2 separate regions of the Homo sapiens genome follow, and region 2 is linked to region 1. The links come from fine-mapping of genetic effects on gene expression. A gene starts in region 1. The other region holds a variant in brackets. All regions are shown on one strand. Distances are between the middles of the regions. Region 1 holds the start of KCNA3 (potassium voltage-gated channel subfamily A member 3). Region 2 holds the start of LOC105378901 (a long non-coding RNA gene).

What was found.
Region 2: its variant is fine-mapped to the expression of KCNA3 in thyroid (GTEx, PIP 0.96).

Annotation. Positions count from the first base shown.
Region 1 is chr1:110,672,254-110,677,253 of GRCh38, forward strand. KCNA3 (potassium voltage-gated channel subfamily A member 3) reads right to left here and starts at 2,687. Exons shown (of 1, transcript NM_002232.5): 1 at 212-2,687. The coding sequence starts at 2,556. The coding sequence ends at 829. RefSeq lists silencers at 2,423-2,522, 2,633-2,682, 2,753-2,812.
Region 2 is chr1:110,771,841-110,777,364 of GRCh38, forward strand. It overlaps LOC105378901 (a long non-coding RNA gene), which reads right to left and starts at 2,504. Exons shown (of 3, transcript XR_001737801.2): 1 at 2,349-2,504. The variant G/A (reference allele first, on the strand shown) is at 2,667.

The DNA.
Region 1 (5,000 bases):
AATCTTCTTGTGATACTGCCGAAGCTTATCTCTCAGATGCATTAGGAAATTTTTTGTTTCTCTCAGCAACACTGAAAACATCTGTTTCTAGACTTTGATAGTTGTTGGGGCTGGGACATATGCACAGAACTTCACAGGAATCTGTTAGTCTAATGCTTTAGAAATGCTTAGCAAGCCCGAAAGAATTAAACTAATTAGTCAGATCAGGACATCTTGGGCATTTCCCTTTATTCAAAGTTGTAGAGACACTTAAAATTCCGGGAAAGGGGATTCAAATAGGAATTTAAGTCAAAAACCAAATAACTCATGGTGGGTTTACAAGTCATTATTCTAGTTAGACTCTTCATCCACATATCTACAGGGTAGGCAACCGAAATACATATTCAATAAATAACGTTGAAAGGTCCATCAAACCGAAGCATCATTTACTACGAATTGATGTGCTTAGGAAAGAAACAACTGCCTTTAAAATTCTGAGGTTAAACAGTTACTCTAACTGTTCTTTAGTTTCATTTCCTCCCAGGATGTACTGCTCTTTTTTAAATAGGGCGTGTACTAGAAATGAAGTTTAACGTAAGTCTGTTGTTTACAATGTTAAGAGAGAGAGGGTAAGAGGGAAAAGGAGAGCTGAGAGAATGCAGCCCACTTGCAAAACAGGCACCTGTTTCAGTATGAAGCAGCAGGGAGAGGGAGAATGAAGTGTGCTTTCCACTTCTTCAGGTCCTTTCCTTGATGAATGGTCTGGAAATGTATAAAACAAGGGCATAGGCAGACCAAGGGGGCACGTTCCACACAATACTGAGCACAGCATGTCACTTGTATCACATATTAAACATCGGTGAATATCTTTTTGATGTTGACACAAGAGTTGGGATTATTGTTCGTGGTGCAGGTGGCAGTGGAATTGCCCGTTTTGAAAGGGGTCTGGGGGAAAGCGCTATGGTTCATACCCCCCTCTTCGATCACCATATACTCCGACTTACTCAGAGTCGAGTTACTCCTTGCTTTTCGGAGCTCCTCGGCTGAAGAGGAGAGGTGCTGGCAACTTCCCACGTGCATGTACTGGGATTGCTCTTCCCCTTCTGTCTCCCGGTGGTAGAAGTAATTGAAGTTGGAAACAATCACGGGAACTGGCAATGCGATGGTCAAGACACCGGCGATGGCACAGAGAGATCCCACAATCTTGCCCCCTATGGTCACTGGGTGCATATCGCCGTAACCCACTGTTGTCATGGTTACCACTGCCCACCAGAAGGCATCCGGGATGCTGCTGAAACCTGAAGTGGGGTCGTCTGCCTCGGCAAAGTAGACCGCGCTGGAGAAAAGGATGACCCCAATAAAGAGGAAGAAGATGAGCAATCCCAGCTCCCGCATGGACGCCTTCAGCGTTTGCCCGAGGATCTGCAGCCCCTTGGAGTGGCGCGACAGCTTGAAGATGCGGAAGACCCTTACCAGGCGGATGACCCTCAGGATGGCCAGAGACATGGCCTGCTGTCCATTGCCCTGTCGTTCGGCCAGCTCGGTACCCAGAGTGATAAAATAAGGAATGATGGCCACAATGTCGATCAGGTTCATGATGTTTCGCGAGAAGGTGGCTTTGCTAGGACAAGCGAAGAACCGCACCAGCAGTTCGAAGGAGAACCAGATGATGCACAGCGTCTCCACCACGAAGAAGGGATCGGAGAAGCTGGAGGCTCCTGCGCGGGACCCCGACGTGCTGTTGCCGGCTGCTTCGAATGAGTCCTGCGACGTCGAGGCGGGGTAGTCCTTCTCGTCGCGGAACTCCGGCAGCGTCTCCAGGCAGAAGATGACAATGGAGATGAGGATGACCAGCACGGACACGATGGCGATGCCCCGGGCCGGCCCGGAGCTCTCGGGGTACTCGAAGAGCAGCCACACCTGGCGCTGGAAGTCGCGGCGGGGCAAGGGCCGCTCCTCCTCCCGCAGGAAGCCCTCGTCCTCGCGGAACTTCTCCATGGCCTCCTCGCCCAGCTGGTAGAAGCGGATCTCCTCGGAGAAAATGTCGATGGGCACGTTGACCGGCCGGCGGATGCGGCCCCCGGACTGATAGTAGTAGAGGATGGCGTCGAAGCTGGGCCGGTTGCGGTCGAAGAAGTACTCGTTGCGGAGCGGGTCGAAGTACCTCATGCGCCGCTTGGGGTCGCCCAGCAGCGTCTCGGGGAACTGGCAAAGGGTCTTCAGCTGCGTCTCGAAGCGCAGCCCGGAGATGTTGATGACCACGCGCTCCCCGCAGCAGTCCTGCTCGCCCGCGGCCGGCAGTGAGGGCGGCAGCGGCTCGTAGCGGTCGCAGCCGCCGCCGCCACAGCCGCCTTGAGGCGGGGCCCCTCCACCATCGGCCACCTCCGGCTCCAGCAGGTGGTCCCCGGGCACCACGGTCATGTCGGGCGGCAGCTCGCGGCCTGCGGCGGGCTCCGCGTAGCCGTGGTTCACCAGCGTGTGGGCACCGCCGCTGCTCGCTGGGCGCTGAGGAGGGTGGGCGCGGTGGCGGGCTGAGGGCGGCGGCGGCGAGCGCAGAAGGCTGAGGCGCTCGTCCATGCGGCGGGGAAGAGGCGGCAGCGGTGAGGCCAGGTCGCTCCTCCTCGCGCTCCCCGCCCTTTCGCCGCCTCCGCCCCCGAGCCGAGCCCACCGCCTGTTGCAGCCAAAGCCGCGATGCTCTGTCTGGGTCTGGCGCGGTCAGCCGGGCTCCCGCACGGGGACGCCTCCTCCCTCCTTCTCGCGCTCTCCGCCCCCTCCCCTGCGGGGCGCGCGCCCGCCTCCGCGTCCCCTTAGGATTCCCGCCCACCGCGCGGGCGCGCGTCCCGCTCTCGGGGGCAGCCGCCGGGCCTGCATTTCTTGCAGCCCTCAAGGCCCCTCGGTGTCAGCGAAAGAGCCCTCATGTTGTACCTCGGCGCCCCGCGGGAATGCCCACCCAGCAGAGCCGGCCCACGGGGAGTCAGGCTGCCGGCCCGGGCCCCTAGGCTCCGCCCGCTTCTGGTCAGCGCCCCTCGCCCCCGGCCCGCCTGGCCGCGTCCCAGTCGCCAGGGTTTTCGGCCCGTGGGCCGGGAGAGCTCCCGCCGCGGCCCCGCGGGCGCCGGCCCCCTGGCCTCCACACCCCTAGGTACAGCCCGGGGAGGGCAGGCGGGCCCAGTGTCCAGGGAGGGAGTGCAGGCCAGGCGGGCGCCCTGGGCCAGAGGCAAGCCTGGCGCCGGCATCCCAGGTTCCCTTGAGGGTCGAGGACCGCCAAACCCTGGGGAGGAGCGGGGGTTTAAACAATTTAGCTTCTGCTAGGATGCGAAGCCAAAGGGAGTAATGGGTGCTGATGGGCTTCGCAAACGGAGTCCGAAGGAAATGGATTGTTAAAGGCGTTCGGGCCCTGCTGCTTTAGTGAATAGTTCACACCCGTTTTCGCAGCGGAGATGTCGGCCACTGGGAAGAATCAAGGACCAAGTTTCTGATTGGGATTAGCAGTGACAGCCTGGTCTTTATCCACTACACAGGTTTCCTGTTGGCGGGGAAATAAGAGGAAAAATGGGAAAGGAAATTCACGAAGTCGAAGTTGTGTGGTTAGAAAGTCCAGCTTTATGACTCAAGCCTGTCGTGGAAGGGATGAGAGCAGGACCTGTACCTAGACTTTTTACTTAATATTTTGGCACTGCCCTTGTGGTAGGGAATTTGCAGCGCTCTAGTTGTTAAACTGGAAGGACATTCATTCTGCAACTTGTACCTCTTGCTTGATCTGGGCCCAGAGATAACTTACATGTATCTTCTTTAAACTTATTTTTCCAAATTATTGTGGTTACTTTGAACACAATTTGTTTCCAGAAATTTTAGCAATCTAATATAACTCAACCCTAGGCTTTAAAAAGTCTGTTTTTTATTGTATCATTCAAATCATTTACAGAAGAGGAACTATTGTCTAGACAGCTCCTCACCCACCCAAAGTTAGCTGACAATTCAATTTTAAGTAAGTGATTTGTGGTCAATACTTCCCACCACCACTCCCAACCATGGGGTTCTCTAGGGCACAGAGTAGGTCCTAGCCAACTTATATTTCTAGCAACTACCAAAGTGCCTTGTAAATGGTGGAGACTTGGTACATACTTGTCAGATTGAATTCCCCAAGGAGTGTCTCTTTGCGTTGCTATCTGCTCTGGAGTTTCAACATTTCTTCTTTTTGAGCCCAAGATGCTGCTGTGATTCCTAGGATGAGGAGTGAGGAAAAACTGAGCTCACCATAGAAAACACTGCTCATTTATTCCATAGGATTTCCACCTCCGGCTCTCCTGGGCACAACAGGCACCCATGTCCTTTTATTGTCCCTTCATCTTCCGTTTCACCTCCTGGTCAGTGCCAGACAATGCAGGCAGTCACTTATGTTGTGGAATGGCAAAACTGGGCAACCACGTAAAACTCTTTCTCTTACAAAACTCCAGAACACTGGAATGTGACAGCCACCTCATTATTTTGCGTATATATTTTGAGCTGGTGATTAGAGTAGCAGTATAATCAATCATTCATATATTTAAATCTTAGAATGAGACAGACTGCTTGCTGCAATGATAGCTCATGGAAAGGCAAAGACCCTATTTTTAAAGACCAGATGTTTCATGTACTTCTATGTCTGACTTAGAAAATGATTTATTCCTTCTTTTGCAGGAATTAGTACTGAAATTAATATTAATCAATGGCAAGGAAGACCAGAGCAGAGGATAGTCCTGTGACAAATGGTCACAAGCTTCTCCCAGCTGTGAAATGTCTTTCCTTCATAAGTGACTATTTCCATTCCCTTTCATGTATTTGCCTTGTCTGGAAGACTTTGATTATGTGCTTCTTAGGACACATATAAAGTCCTTACTTTGTATTTGGGGCCCAGAGAAGTTTAGCAATTTGCTTAAGCTCACATAGCTAGTTAGCAGCAGAGCTGGGCCTAAAATCTTGGACCATTTCCAAATCCAGTGTTTGCTTTACTGTATCACACTGTGCAACGCTTGTGTTGATCA
Region 2 (5,524 bases), 100 kb after region 1:
AGGAACTGGGTGGACATACTGTACCTTGGGCCAAAGGAGTGGGGCCAGGCCTGTAAATAGACTCAACCCTTGTAGAAGCCATTTATAAGAAGTTGAGGTATTGTCAGTTTGGCCTAGGCTAGTGGTTCTCCACTTTGGGAAGGGGTGCTGGGGTAGAAAGATCAGATTTACCTCTTCAAACTATGCACGCTTGGCAGGGAGAGGCCTATCAAATTTTCTGCCCAGATAATTTTAATACACTCCCCCAGACTGACTGGCCCTCACTGAGTTGGAGTATGGGGCCCTACCTCCCTGGAATACAGTATGTTTTCTTTTGAGAACCTGTGGTGGATTCTGCGGTGCTCCCTAAGCTCACCCAGCCCCACCCTAGGAGCTTCACCTAGTGACAGTGTACACAGAGTCCTCCCCCAGCATTACCCTCCAGGGAAGGAACTTCCTTACCCAAGATTAAGCTGCCTGGTACATGCAAGTTTCTAATGAATAAAGGCCCAGCCCCCAGCCTCAATTTGGGATATGTATCTCTGAAAGGCCATCCCAGTTTCAGAGCTCCCTGGGGGACTAAGGCTTTTGTTTCAACTGCATCCCAGTTGACTTCTCCCTCCACCCTGTCCTGCTTCTCTCACTTCCTTGCAGGTGTTCTGAATGCCCTCCCCCAAAAACCTTCTGAATGCAAATCTGTCTCAGAGTCTGTTTCCCAGGGAACCTGATCCACGACAAACCCCCATCACACTGTCTTCCTCCTCCCCCATTCAGTATAACCTTCCCAATGCCCCTTATAAAGCACTCCAGAAGAGAAACATTTATAACTCTCAGAAATATGACAGATTCGTGGAAGACACATCACAGATACAAGAAGTCAACTATATCAATGTTTAGGTTAAAAAAATAAACTACTGAAATAAAAAGGACTCGTTGGAGATGGTTTAAAAATGAAGCAAAAAGCTTATAGATTAAAGAAACACATGTGAGATTAGGTAACATAGATGAGTTTTAAAATAAAAGACTAGCAGCTACAGTTTTTTTTTTAACTTCTATTTTAAGTTCAGGGGTACAAGTGCATGTTTGTTACAGAGGTAAGCTTGTGTCATGGGGGTTTGTCGTGCAGATTATTTCATCACCCAGGTATTAAGCCTAGTACTCATTAGTTGTTTTAAAAAGTAAAAAGAAATAAGAAATTGAGCTTTTAGATGAAAAGGTAAGACCTAGGATATGAAATGCTGAAAGCATACATACAGATAGGAGTTGAGAATTAGAAATAAAATTCAAGAACTAAAGGATAAAAAACGAATTTAGGAATGGCTTTAAAAATAAAAGCATTTCCTCAAATGGTTAAACATAGAATTACCATATGATCCAGCAATTTCACTTCTATGCCTATACCCCAAAGAATTAAAAGCAGGAGCTCAAACAGATACTTGTACACCCATGTTCACGGCAGCATTATTCACAATAGCTAAAAAGTGGAAGCAACCCAAATGTGGATGAGCAACATGTGGCATAACATACAATAGAATATATTATTCAGCCTTAAAATGAAGAAAATTCTGACATATGCTATAACATGGATGACGCTTAGAGATATTATGCTAAGTGAAATAAGCCAATCATAAAAAGATAAGTGTTTTATGATTCCATTTATATGAAGTACCTAGAGTAATGAAATTTACAGAGACAGAAAATAGAATGGTGGTTACCAGGGGCTGGGGGAGTGGGCAATGGTGAGTTAGTGTTTCATGTGTACACAGTTTCAGTCTGGAACCATGAAAAAGTTCTGGAGATGGATAGTGGTGATGCTTGTAAAACATTGTAAATGTAGGTAATGCCATGGAATTGTACCCTCAAGAATTATTAAAATGGTAAATTTTGCTATGTACATTTTACCACAATAAAGAATCACCCCCTCCCACCAAAAAAAACAAAAGTTCATAGATTAGAGGAAGAGAGAGAGAGAAGAGAGAGAGAGGAGAGAGAGAAGAGAGAGAGGTGAGAGAGAAGAGAGAGAGAGGAGAGAGAGAAGAGAGAGAGGTGAGAGAGAAGAGAGGAGAGAGAAGAGAGAGAGAGGAGAGAGAGAAGAGAGAGAGGTGAGAGAGAAGAGAGGAGAGAGGAGAGAGAGAGAGGAAAGGGAGAAAGAGAGGAGAGAGGAGAGATAGGAGAGAGAGGAGAGAGAGGAGAGATAGGAGAGAGAGGAGAGAGGAGAGAGAGAGAGAGAAAGAGAGAGAGAGAGAGAGACAAAGAGAAAGCCTAGCTAAGCTTGCCAGCTTTGGTTCTGAGCAGAACTGTGTGTGGTGGAGATGCAGTGCTCCTTCATGGAGGAGACAGAGACCAATACACGATGCCCCTACTCTCACCCGCCTATCATGTTCATGTTTCCGTCGAAGGCAAATTTTTCAGCTGGGTCTTCTAGCTACAGGGACCCTGCCTCCTGTGTTGGCCAGCCCCTCTGGAAACTTTTCAGGCATCTGCCATAATCCATGTTGACAAGGGAGAGACTCCTCAGGACAGAAATGAAGAGAGAGTCAAAGCCAAGATGGGTGGTTGTGACTTACCGACTTATTTTAACCAGCAAATTTGGGGGCAGTGGCTATTTTGAGCTGTGTCTGAAGGAAGTCTTTCCTGCACATAGGAATGCAAGTGTTGGCAGCCATCACTGTGGCTTCCTAACAATT[G/A]TTCCCTCTTTCCTGACATTCTTCCCATCCTGTAGTTCCAGCACTGAGAGTCCTTCCCACTGGGAGACTTGGGTTATGAAAATACTCCCAAAGAGGAAGCTGCTTTTCCAAGTATAGAGGAAGTGGAAAGGCAAGTGTGATCTGGATTCTACCTGGTTCTGTTCCCACATGAATGACTGCCAAGAGTTCCCACCCACTTGCAGCCAGTGCCAGAGTTTCTTTTCAGCCTCCAAAACTCTTGGTTTTCCAAGAAGTTATCCTAAATTAATTCTATTTATGATAGTCCATGATGACACATTAATCATTTGTTCACATCTTTATTCATTTGGCTAACTTTCATTCTACAAACATCTATTCAACAAATATTTATTGAGTGCCTAATATGTGCCACTGCACTGGGAACTATGTCAGGAAGCTTAGAGATTGATTCTAGCATGAACACTTTATTTTATAGTTGAGCATAAAGACCTAGAATTGCTCTATTCAATACAACAGCTACTGGCCACATGCGGCTATTTAAATTTGATTTAATTAAAATTAAAAAGTGGCCAGGCGTGGTGGCTCATGCCTGTAATCTCAGCACTTTGGGAGGCAGAGGTGGGTGGATCACCTGAGGTCAGGAGTTCCAGACCAGCCTGACCAACATGGTGAAACTATGTCTCTACTAAAAAATACAAAAATTAGCCAGAAACTGTGGCGGGTGCCTGTAATCCCAGCTACTAGGGAGGCTGAGGCAGGAGAATTGCTTGAACCTGGGAGGCGGAGGTTGCAGTGAGCCGAGATTGCGCCATTGCACTCCAGCCTCAGTGACAGAGCAAGACTTCATCTCAGGAAAAAAAAAAAATACAAAGTTAGTTTCTGAGTAACAGTCACATTTCAAGTTATCAATAGACTCATGACTACTGGCTGCCACGTTGGACAGTGCAGATCTAGAACATTTTCAGAAAGCTCTATTGGGCCACGATGGCTTAGAGAGTTAAGTAAATTGCCCTCGATCACATAGCCCTTCCAATCAAATTCTGTGAACAGCACAATTTTCTGTATCTTATGTTTCTACTAATTATATAAAAATGAAACTCATTTCTGTGTTGGACATCTCCTCCAGAAACTTCTCAAGCACCTGCCATAATCCATGTCGAGATGAGAAAGTGGGCCTGGTTGTAAACACCAAAATATTTGAAAGAAAATAGAAGAAAAATGGAGACACATGTACAGATATTTAAAAATTATACAGGTAGCTAACTCCAGCTAGAGTAAAATATCCACATGTCTGCCTGATTGTTTTTATTAACAAAACAAGACTTTTAAAATGTTGAAAGCATGGCTTCAATTCTTACCCTAGGCACCTGCCTCTAGTTTGATTGTGGAACCACCCCTTTGGCTTGAGGATTGAGGCAGACTGCTTCAGCAGTGGGTCTGCACAGGACTGTCTTGGATCTTGTTCTTTGCTCTGTATGTCCTGGGTGATTCCATGCCATTTCCAGGCATTAAAACCCATCGATAGGCAGATGATTCCCAAATATACATCTCTCTCCAGGCCTGCTAGCTCCTTGATCTCTGGATGACTTGGACTCTACACTTGGATGCCTAACAGTTATTTCAAGTCCACAAGTCCGAACATAACTCTTGATCTCACCCTGCCCTCAAACCTGCCCCTCCACCGTCTTGCCTTTCCCAACAAATGGTAACCCCTACATCAAGACATTCAAGTGAAAACCTACAGGTCATGCCGGATTCCTTCCTTTCCTTCATGTCACATTTCAAATCCTATTACCTCTACCTCTCAAATACATCCCCAACAAGTCTCTCCTTCTTTCCAGCTTCACCCCAGTGGTTCCAGACCAAGCCATCATCGTCTCTGCCTGGACTCCTCCAAAAGCCTCCTATACTCCATCCCTATACTCCATCCTTCCACTTTAGTAAGCTTCAAATCAATGGCCTACCTGGCCTTTGCCTTCAAAGTTAAAATGATAGGAAGTGAACAGCAATCACAAATAAGGATTAAGTTAGATTTAAAAGCAACTTCCTGTCAAATAGTGATGTGTGTGTGTGCGCACACGTGTGTGCACAGGGAGGTGGGTATTGACTGAGAAGAAGCATGAGGGAAACTTCTGGGCTGCTAGAAATGTTCTATATCTTGATCTAGGTGTTGGTTATGTGGGTGCATATATATATGCATATAAATTATACTTTAATTTTTAAAAGTTAAAAAAATAAAGAAAAGGAAAGGAAAGGACTTCTTGCCAAGATTTTAAAGACAGTTTGGCAGCACATAAAGGGATGTTGTGGAATCTACTTTCTTGGCTTCCTTTCAGAATAGGATGGGAGTCCTAGCTGCCTGGGGGTGTTCAGTGCCTAGAATTAAAGAGATATAATCAGAAATCACATTTGTTCTGCTTAATTCTACCCTTGGCCCTGTGTTAGATGCATCATGATGAATATTTAATGTGTCACTTAACATTTCATCACAGAAGAGTATTTAAGGACATTATGAATAATTAATATGCTGGGTGGAGGGATGTTTGAGAGTACCCAGCCTGGGTCACTTTTCACTGTGGAGCCAAATTACTGTGGGATTCTTTGGGGTCAAAAGCAGTCACCATTTGCCAGGCCTTTCCTGGATGTGTCCAAATACCACTGTGTCCTTCAGCTTCAGAAATAAGGCAGCCTAAAGCAAACCAGACTGTGATAAAAGGATGTGTTGTAAATTTACATTTATGGAGGAACACAGCAACACAGTCTGTGGCGCCTTAGAGAAGCCAAATTGACTCATGGCTTTCCTTTTCTCTCTACCCACTGACCAGCAATGGGAGACCCTGACCAACTGTCTGGCAAGCAGCTGAGTAGGCATGATGATC